2 separate regions of the Homo sapiens genome follow, and region 2 is linked to region 1. Evidence: fine-mapped expression QTL. A gene starts in region 1. The other region holds a variant in brackets. All regions are shown on one strand. Distances are between the middles of the regions.

What was found.
Region 2: its variant is fine-mapped to the expression of TRHDE in aorta (GTEx, PIP above 0.99).

What each region holds. Positions count from the first base shown.
Region 1 is chr12:72,270,142-72,275,514 of GRCh38, forward strand. It overlaps TRHDE (thyrotropin releasing hormone degrading enzyme), which reads left to right and starts at 2,229. Exons shown (of 19, transcript NM_013381.3): 1 at 2,229-3,416. The coding sequence starts at 2,503. It overlaps TRHDE-AS1 (TRHDE antisense RNA 1), which reads right to left and starts at 3,368. Exons shown (of 2, transcript NR_026837.1): 1 at 1,682-3,368.
Region 2 is chr12:72,294,526-72,299,898 of GRCh38, forward strand. The region is part of intron 2 of TRHDE (thyrotropin releasing hormone degrading enzyme); the gene reads left to right. Among named protein-coding and RNA genes, the nearest start is that of TRHDE-AS1, 24 kb to the left of the region's middle. The variant C/T (reference allele first, on the strand shown) is at 2,774.

The DNA of each region.
Region 1 (5,373 bases):
CAACTCCTCAACTCTTAAAATGCATACAGCCAGATACATATGGACAGCAAGAGTACAGACATTTAAAAACAGAGCAGAAAAAAGTAACTTGAACAGAATGTGGCATTTCCCTTGGTCTGTTGCTAACGGCCCACATACAACATGCTTAAAAAATCCCACCCTGGCACTTATTTTCATCATCATTTAAAAATGATTCAAATGGACATTTAGAATGCATGGCATTGAGCATGTATCCCATCTGGGGATAAATGAAAAAGGGCTTCCTCGAGCAGGGCTGTGTTTTTAGTGGTTATCAAGCTAAGGTTAATGTGTAATTGGTCTCTTCTCTTTGGTCATGCTTTTAAAGCCAAACACAATATTTTAATTGTCTATTTTCAGTACTCCAAAGCCAGAAGCATTAACCAGTTCTTTTTGTAAGAAAATAGCTATGGACATGATTTGTAAAATGCCTTCAAGATTTGAAGACATGAAAGAAACATGTAAAAAGGAATTACCTAATTTTCTATTATTCACTTTTTTAATTAACCCAGAAGCCAATCACACTTTGTTTTACTAAACACTGGAGACTCCTGCTTCCTAGATGTCACCTTTGGGGTGGCTGTTTTCTGAATATTGTTCCAATTAGAGTTCTTCGCACAAATTCTGAAGGTTGGATATCCCACATACTTATACATACTCTGCAGTATAATTTTAAACTCCAATATACTCAGACAAGAGTCCATAACCAGCCAATGGGCTATGAACCTATTTTGATGCTGCCTGCTGTCAGCAAACTGGTCTATTGATAACTATCCTAACAAAGTTAAAACAATGTTCATGGTAACACTGGAAAGCTGCAAGAAAGTAATTATGGCTAGGTGAAATGAAAAACTGACCAATCATGGAATGTATTCGTTCACCGTTCTAATAAGCCCAGCTTTTCTCAGTCTCAGGGTTTTGGTCCTGAATGTTACACTGTAGACATTGTGTGTTAATCGTTTCTCCAATCTAAAGATGGGAATTATCCTATGGGGAAAACATCACCTTGCTTTGGCCTTTACTTCCGGAGGATTTTAATGCTTCATTGCTAACATTATTTTAGTACTGCACACCTGGACACATCGCACAGTATAATGTAATATATGTAGTCAGGTTTTGGAGAATTTATTTCAATTTACATACAATCCTCCAAATCCTCTGGCGAGCTTGATGTGAAATCTGACACAGCCACATCTCCCTAGCAGGATCTTCTTTTGCTCTCTATGTTAATAGCCAAAGGCTCCAAGGATCTCTCCCTGGAGCGCGGTGGGGCTAAGGAGTCAGGAAGAGGGGTGACTGCGGGGCTTGTTGCGCTGAAGATTTACAATGTACTTCTTGCAGGCGGCTCAGCAACCCCCTCTGTGGCTGTGGGTGTCTGGTGTGACAGAGCGGAGAAAAGCTCTCTAATCTCCCAGTGCCTGCCTCTGCCGCTCAGTCGCTCCCCTCCCTCCCGCCTTTCCTGCCTCCTCGCGCGCTCCCTCTCCTTTGCCTTTCTCTGGGAGTTTCAGTCCCTCAATGCAGCTGGAGTAGCCCTGGCAATCTAAACCCGAAGCCTGTGTATATACACACACGCACACACGCGCACACACATGCACACGCGCTCGGACATACGCACTTCGGCTCTCCCCCTTGGGATATGGAGCAAACCCAGAGCTTCATCTACCTGAAGGGGATGGCCCGGCCGGACACTTCTTTCTCACTTGTCATCTCCGGAGGGCAGAGCAAGACTGGAATGAGGGAGTCTCGCTGTCGGGTCTGCAACCTCCTGCCGTTTGCCGCCACCGCCGCTTAAAGTGCCCAGGGTGGAGAAGGCTTTTCCAGGACGGATCTCCGTCGTAGCTTCGCGGCCCTGGGACTTCCTCCTGCTGGTTCACTCTAGTCTCTCCCACCTCGGCCATCCTTTTCTCTCCAGCTGCAGGGTGTATGGCTCGGGTGCCTCCCGTGCTGTGGCCGCCGTCACTGCTGCTGCGAGCACATTCCACCCAGAGGACCGAACGCCGCCGCTGGAGTGGGGGGAGAAAGCGAAAGCCCTAACTTCCCTCTCTACACCCTCGCTCTTCCCACCGCTCCCGTCCTTCTCCCTAGCCGAGAACCGGTTGGAAGGCTCCCGCGGAAAGCGAGGCGAGAGCGCGGCGCAGGGGAGGGAGAGCCGGGAGCCGCAGGCGCGCAGGGGCGGGGGCAGCATGTGCCCCGCCGCCGGGTGCTCGTCCGAGAAGTAGCGCGCGCTGGGCAAGCAAGACGCTTTCCAAGTTGGGCGCGTCCCAGAGCTCACAGCCCGGTGTCCAGAGTGAGGCGGGGCTGATGGGGGTCGCGGAAGCTGCCGTCGCTTGTGTCCAGAACCCGTCTTAAAAGAACCCGGGCCAGCATCCCCAGTCGCGCGCCCTCGGCCCGCGTGAGCTCTCCGATGCCTGCTCTGGCTGTGGCCCGGGTGGCCCGCCCGCGGGGGGTGCCAGAGGGGGCGGGGGAGGAGGAGGAGGCGGTGTGATGGCCCTGGACGGCGAGCTGGGGGAGCAAGAGGAGGAGAAGAAAAAGAAGAAGAAAAAGAAGAGGAAGAAGAAGAAGGAGGAGGAGGAGGAGGAGGAGGGGGCCGAGAAGAGCAGCTCACCCTTCGCAGCCGCGATGGGGGAAGACGACGCCGCGCTTCGGGCTGGCAGCAGGGGGCTCTCCGACCCGTGGGCAGACTCAGTGGGAGTGCGACCCCGCACCACGGAGCGCCACATCGCCGTACACAAGCGGCTTGTGCTGGCCTTCGCTGTGTCCCTCGTGGCATTGCTCGCGGTCACAATGCTCGCTGTGCTGCTCAGCCTGCGCTTCGACGAGTGCGGGGCGAGTGCCACGCCAGGCGCCGACGGTGGCCCCTCAGGCTTTCCGGAGCGCGGCGGCAACGGGAGCCTCCCTGGATCGGCCCGGCGCAACCACCACGCAGGCGGGGACTCCTGGCAGCCCGAGGCGGGTGGGGTGGCCAGTCCGGGGACCACGTCGGCCCAGCCGCCGTCGGAGGAGGAGCGGGAGCCGTGGGAGCCGTGGACGCAGCTGCGCCTGTCGGGCCACCTGAAGCCGCTGCACTACAATCTGATGCTCACCGCCTTCATGGAGAACTTCACCTTCTCCGGGGAGGTCAACGTGGAGATCGCGTGCCGGAACGCCACCCGCTACGTAGTGCTGCACGCTTCCCGAGTGGCGGTGGAGAAAGTGCAGCTGGCCGAGGACCGGGCGTTCGGGGCTGTCCCTGTAGCCGGTTTTTTCCTCTACCCGCAAACCCAGGTCTTAGTGGTGGTGCTGAATAGGACACTGGACGCGCAGAGGAATTACAATCTGAAGATTATCTACAACGCGCTCATCGAGAATGAGCTCCTGGGCTTCTTCCGCAGCTCCTATGTGCTCCACGGGGAGAGAAGGTATGGAGGGAGGCGGTGCCCCGCGCTGCCCCACCCCGGCGCGCGGCTCGAACCTCTGGGCGGCCTGCGACCCCGGGGACCCAGCTGGCTTCCAATACCCGGGAAGCCAGGGGTGGGGGGAAGGAAACGAAAGCGGAGTAGGGCAGTCAGAACTCCGGGGTCTCCCAGATGCCTCGGGGTCTCGCTGCCGCCAACTTCGCAAACTGACTCACCGGTGCCAAAAGATGAATGCTGCCCCCTCCTCTAGTCGGGACCTCTCCTCTTCCTGTCAGAGTTCCTTAGCCATCGAAACGCAGGGCTCTTTTTCTGAAGGGTAGCTGATAATCTGAGCGATGCCAGAGTGACATGAAAAGCTTGCCAAGTTACTGTCGAGGGAAAATACGTGGCGCTGAAGGCCAAGACAACAGCGCATCCAGGTTAGCATGTCAGGGCAGGTCAGGGACACACCGTTCTCCACCCCCACCCACAACATGCCCATCTTCCCTGACTATTAGTCTCCTGCCAGGTGCAGAGCAGAGGATGGGCTTTGGCTGCGTCAAGTTTCCCCAAACTTCAAGTTGAGATTCGGAGTGAAAAGAGTGGTTTCCAGAGATAGGCTGAGAGGACCGGGACGGGGGTGGAGGTTGCCAAGGCCAGAGCCAGCGATAAGTGGCCTCGCGGGCGCTGCCAGCTCTGTGCTAAGGCAGGGCGACTCCGGTTGTTTGTTTATGAGTTGCTGCCTCTGGAGATGATTCCAGTGGCCAAGCGGTGGGAAAGCTAGTTGTCAGTCTCAAATGCCTTGTTAGTGTCTTTGCCGCGTTTTACATTTGTGTAGTTTTGTATTTTTATAAAAAATTTCCGAGAGGCCGTGGAGCTTTTCACCACTTGTTTAGAGCTCAGACCTCATAATCCAATAGAACTGAGTTCGAATCTCTGCTGTTCATCTAACTCTGGTGGAGGTTTGAGGAAGGTAATTAACCTTTTCCTGACATGACTACTTCTAGTGCTTATTGCACGCCCATGTACTCAATCCGACAAGAACCCTATGAGGTAGACGCTATTATCAGCATTCCCTATTTTACAGGTGGGGAAATGGAGGCACAGGTGTGTCACATAGCTTGATCAAGATCACCAAGAGTGAGCAGACAAAGCACGGATTTAGACCCAGGGAGTCTGGCTCTTGAGCCTAGACTTTTAATTCTAACTTGGGGATACCAATAATAATATTCTACTTGTAGGATTGGTGTAGACGTCTATGAGTGAATGCATTACAAAGTACTTACCCCTGTGCCTGGCATATAGAGTATCCACCATAAATGCTAGCTCTCATGAGTGTCTTGTGGCAGTAAGCTCTCAGGTATATTGTTGAATGAATAAGTGATTCTTGTTCTTTGCTCTAATTCCCACATTGCTAAGATAACTTAGATTAATTAAATGACTGAGGGCAGATGAACAACCAAAGTGAGCTTAAAAATTAAACCAACAACTTTAGAAGAGGAGGCAGGTTACAGATCAGTAATGAGGCAGAGCCTCTCCTTTTCTCAGGTGATTCTCACAACAGCAGAAAATGGGCTCGGAGAAGCCCAGGGCCCTGGAGGTGAGCAGGCTTGTCAGTGGAGAGTTAGGACTTGAACTTTGGTTCTCTAATCCCTGGACCAGACAGAGCTTATGGTGTTTGGAAACTCTCAGAAGAAGTTATTGTGTAAGAGGCTGGGGAAATTGCAATGTGTTGTGAAAGTAAGCAAAAGTTTTATTATTTATAGAGTTCTATGAAGTAACCTCCTATAAATAAAATGCCCAATGCTTTAGTAGCTGTATGATAGTTAAAACCTCCTATAAGTGAATGTATAAATTATTCACTTTCTTACTCCTGACATTAGATATGGATATTTTAAACCCCCTTCTACCACTTCCTCCAACATGTTCTAAAGAATACAGATTAAAAATATTTTTTAAACCCAGAATTATGTCAAATACG
Region 2 (5,373 bases), 24 kb after region 1:
CTGCATCCAGTCGTCTGGATGTCTGCTCAGCTCTGGCTGAGCATGGGGCTCTTATAAGCCTCAGAGGGGAGGAAGTGTACATTGATTGGGTGGCCATGGTTGGGCCGGGAAAAGGCACCACAAGTCCCTACTCTGGTCTGTGGGATGGCAGCCTGTTCCCTGCTCACTGGGGACCCGCCCCCTTCCACCCAGGAATCTTTCTGCCTCCTGCTGCCTGTTCATGGCACCCAGGCTATAAGTGCCAAGGGGTATCTGCAGGCCAGCATCAAGCTGCCCTCAGCTCCACCTTGGCTTCCCTCCTATGCTCATTGGTGCCCAAAATTTGTGGGGGGTGAGGTGGCAGGGAGCTGGAGTGTCAACACTGCCCTGAGCATGTGCACACCCAGCAGTGCTGTGACAGCACTGGAGCTTGCCCCGACTTTGCTCCGAGATAGGAGCAGGCAAGGACAGCAGGGAGAAGCCAGGCAGTGGGAGCAGGCATTTCTGAGCCTGCAAGGGCAAGGGGGGCTTTCCTGGGCCCCCAAAAGTGCAGGGATGCTTGAGTCCGCAGCTGTGGTTTGGGTGACCGCAGCTGTGGTTTGGGTGACTGCAGCTGTGGTGGGGGGTGGCTGGGGGATGGGGGGTGGTTGGGGGGTGGGAGGGGTTGCAGACGGGGCTCCTGCCTGCTCCAGGAGAGGGAGACCTGGGTCTTCAGCGTGGTTTGGGCGGCTGCAGCAGCACTGGGGAGCCCCACCCCAGCTCAGAAGGGGCAGGGCTCCTGCTTGTCCCTGGCTCTCGCGGGCTCCATGGAGAGGGCAGCCCTGGCCGCGCCTCCCTGATGCAGCCAGTGTGATGGCAGCAGCTGCTCCAGATGGCCCACTGCTGCCGTCACTATGATAGGAACATGGTGTCTTCTGTTTCAACCTCATGGATGGGAATATATATTGCAAAAAGAAGGAAGTTTTAGAGAAGGGATGCTGGGCAAAAAACTGCTACAGGTACTCAAAACATACTGTTTAATTTTATTGTGTGGACTGACTACAATAGGAAGGACACACACAATTTACAATGGTGGTATGTATATATGTATACCCACATCCAGGAAAGTACAAGACATATACACATAATGCACATTCCTGATGCTTATTTTTTCTAGATGTGATATTCTGTATATACGCTTAAAACACAGGACTCTTCTGTGAAGTTTTCTACTGAAAACAAATTAAGTCTCATTTTAATGAGAGAATTAGAGGAGTATAGGTTAATGTATTCTAACCATGTATTCTATTTTTTTTTTAAATCACGTTACTAATAGAAGTCCTGTTGTCATTAGACATTCCAATAAGATTGCGTTACAAATGTAATAATGGTCCATAGAGAAACTAAAATAAATAGTAACAAAAGAGTTGGATTACAATCTATTTAGGAATGTAAGTAGAGGCTTCCTTCCTACCCTAGGAAGTGATAGTCATCCTCCTCCTCTCTACTTTTTGAAAACTTTTTACACTCATCTCTCACAGCTGTTTTTCTGCTGTTCATAGAGCTTTCTTGCCAGCTCCTTTAGACTGTGAACTCTTTGAAGGTAGGCACCATCTTTGTAAGATCTGCAGTTCATGTTGTATGTAGAAAATGATAGATACTCAGTGAAATTCCACTGGTTGTCTAAATAAGTCAATTTCCATCAGAGATACCACCATGTCAAGGGTTTTCAAAATCTTTTGGCTAGGTTAATATGTGGAGCCTGAAAATTTGTGAGAAGTAATTTTGACCAATATTGAAATAAAAATAGAAAATGTTACAATACCAGTATCATCACTTTTAAGGACATCCGCAGGAAGATGTAAGTGAAAAGAGTTACTAAAGAGAGTTGGGTACTGAGGAGCAAAGGTTTACCACTAAACAGGGAACTGAATCCAGTGCAGACTCTGAGGAGAAATGGGATGGTTCCTGTGAGCAGAAAGACAAAGAACTGTCTCTGTTCTCCATTAGGAAAGCAGTGCCTGAGTATTGTTGATTTGTTAGTAATAGCTGAGTCATAGCTAGGATAGCTAGGTAGGGCCTGAGTTGGCTCGGTGGTCTGCAGCCATGTGGGTGCCTTTATTGCTTTTATGATGTCCAGCTCACCTCTGCTGCATGAGAGAAATGCCTGAGCCAGTCATGAGTCACCCAGTCAGGTCTGCAGTGGTATCAGAAGGCTACATGGCCAGGTCAGAAGTTTATTAGAGTCGAGGAGTTTAAGAAGTTAAAAAGAAAAGAATAAAATTGATGAACCTCCAGAAATTTCATTAGTGTGGTAGGAGCAGAGCCAATAGGTTCTATTACAGAGTGAGTGTAGAATGAAGAAATGGATGTAGTGATTGTAGACTGTTTTTAAGCGTGCTAGTTAAGAGAAGGGGTAAGAAAATTATTTATGCAGAGTCTGTTCCAAGGAGCTTTAGATTATGGGAGAGCTGAATCTATAAGAAGAGAACAGAAAGTTTCCAGAAAGCAGCCAAGAGCTACCTGATGTTAATGGCTTGTGTCTGTAGGGGAAATAGCAACACTCTTTTGTGCCTTTCTGCAAGTTTTAAGAACCCAGGAATAAGAATAGAGAAAGCAAATGTAGGGAGATTGAACTTGGGGAATTGACAAGGCACACTTGGCCAGCAGTCAGGAGGGTAAGACATCTAGAGTAACCATAAATATATTATTGGAATCATTGGCCATGGTACCCGGAGAAGCAGGGAGGCAAGTGAACCCATAATGGAAGTGATGTTCAGAAAAATGGATAGCAGGGGTGAAGACTACAAGTCAC[C/T]ATAAAAGTAAAATAAGAGTAGAGATATGAAGTGGATGAGCTGGGAAGATTGTATGTGATAGAGAGGAGGGTTTCAGATTTCAGGGTGAGTTGGTGGAATTTTAAGCCTGTTATTGCAAAATTGGGTGGATGAAGGGAACTGAGGATAGAATCATGGAGTGAGCAGAAAGTAAAGTAACCAAAAGGTTGTGTTGGAACAAGCGTCAATAACATGGAGAGGTGATCCTGAACAGGTTGGGAGAATCTCTGAAAAAGCTGTAAATCAGGCTTCAGATTCATGAAAAAAGTTCAAGAGTGTCACCTGCAGGGCCAGGTAGAAAATAGGAATAGTGAAAGCCATGAACACTGAAAGAAGAGAGTTGTTTTCATGGAAGTGGAGGAACAGTGGTGTAAAAGCAGCAATGGCAGAAGCTGAGAAAGTGCTCATCCTTCTCTCTGCCTCTGAGGGTGGATGAGAGCAGATCTGCTTAAGGATGAGAGTGTGGGCAGAAGTAGTGGGAGTCAGGGGTTTGTGCAAAGGATAAAAGTGTTGAGAAAAAGGATTACTTATGCGGCAGACGGAATGGTAGACTGGAGGGACATGTTAACAACAGAACAGAGGGAGGACTGAGCAGGCCAAATTTAGTTAATGGAGGAGCTTATAGAACCATTGAGCCCCAAGGTTTCCATTGGGATATTGATATAATGGAGTAAGCCTCAGCAAATCTCCATCGCCTTGTGACTGGCTTTGGCTTATGGTGGATTCAGTGATGAACAATAATGGGTTTTGTTATATAATCTACAGTTTATCAACTGCCCTGAGGTTTAAGAGTCTACATATTGAAGAGGCTAATAGAAGCTAATAGAAAGAGCTTGAAGTGAAAAACAAACAAATCTAAAAAACAGAACAGTTTGGTCAGTGTATCCATGATTACAGTATGTTTATACTTGATAATGTGTGTGATAGATTGCATGGTGCACAGCCAGTTATTTTTTTCCTTCAGTAGAGAGGAAGGAGATGATTCTGGCTGTGATCTTCCTTCCCTTATTCTTCCTGGTAGAATTTTGGGTGACTGCAGAGGGAGTTGCCAGTCCAGTTGTCTCTTAGATAAGGTCCTGGCATATCTAGAGTAAAGTAATGGCATATAATCTGATAATATTAAAAAGTTTTTCTTTCTGGCTTCAGATTTGTTTTTATTTTTTGACTTTCTTCTTCTTTTACATTCCAGTTCTTTAGGACTTTTACTTTAAAGAACTGTTTTTGGCCAAGCCTTTATAATCCAAGAGAGGTAGAATGTTGTGTAATACTGAGGAAAAAAGGAGTGAAAGATGAGGTTGGAGGTTTATGTAGCAGCCAGATCATGAAGGGGTTTGTATGTCATGTTAAGGAGTTTTGATTGTATGCTTTAGGCAGAGGGGAACCATTGAAGGATTTGAGCTTGGGAGGGCTTCAGGGTTATATAAGGAGCATTCTTTAAAAGCATGGAGATAATACAAAATGTCTTATCCTCTTTGTCAAAAGACTCTCAATTTCTTTTCTCCATTATTTACCTGACCAGGATCTGTTTTCCTGTTTCATTAAGGCTGCCATTTGGGTCTAGCTCAGCTTTCCTGAGGATTAAGGAATAGGCATTAAGTGACTGTCTGGGCAAGCAAGTGGAGTTTAGGTTGCAGTTGGCATGAAAAAATGGCCAAACTTTTGCACCAAATGTGTTGCAGTACAGAGAAGAATCTCTGGGTGACCATGATACAGAAGAAATGATAAGACAAAATTATATTCTAAAGGTTGATGTCACTCAGATTCAAATGGTTCTTATAGGATTTGATATCAAATTTCAGGAAGATTAACCAAGACATTCTGTTGAGATATATTAATATTTCTAGGGATGAGACTTGTAGGAAACAAAGAGACAAATTATTTCCTGAAGAATCAAGTATTATTCTTGGAAGGCCTTTGTACTAAGATGGATAAATAAGGGTGAATATTCAGAGTGGAAGAAGATAGCAAAAGTACTAATAGTACGATCTGTCCTCAATCACTACCATCTACTAATGTTTCTTGACTTCCTTATCAGACCAGATGGCAAGATTAAGACTTGCTGGGTCTGGGAGATGCTGTTGTTTTCTCATTAAGTTTAATTTGGGGAGGAACTGGCAAATGCCTAAAACCAATCACTACCCATATGTGCTGTTCACATGGTACTGAAAATCATTTCTTACTGTCATCTTAAAACCATAGAAAAACATTCTTTTATTCATCCACAAATATATATTGAGCAACCGTGTTCAACAATGAACTGAAATATTGGGAAAATCTGTCATAATTAAGATCAAAGAGATAACTGACTGAGCAGAATTCATCAGAAGTTCATATAGATGTAGGACTTTGAGTTACAGAGAGAGGAAAAATTTCTAAATTTTCTGATTAACCTTAATCAACTCAGTGTCCTCTTTGGGCTTAGCATCATCTTAAATGATTTTGTTTTTATGGGATTTAGGAGCCAGACAATAAGACAAGATAAACATACTATCATGCACTACATGGTACAAGACGCTGTTTTATAAAGAAAAGGTAACTTCAGTGGGATGCTAGATGTTAAAAAAGAACAGAGAAGAAGACC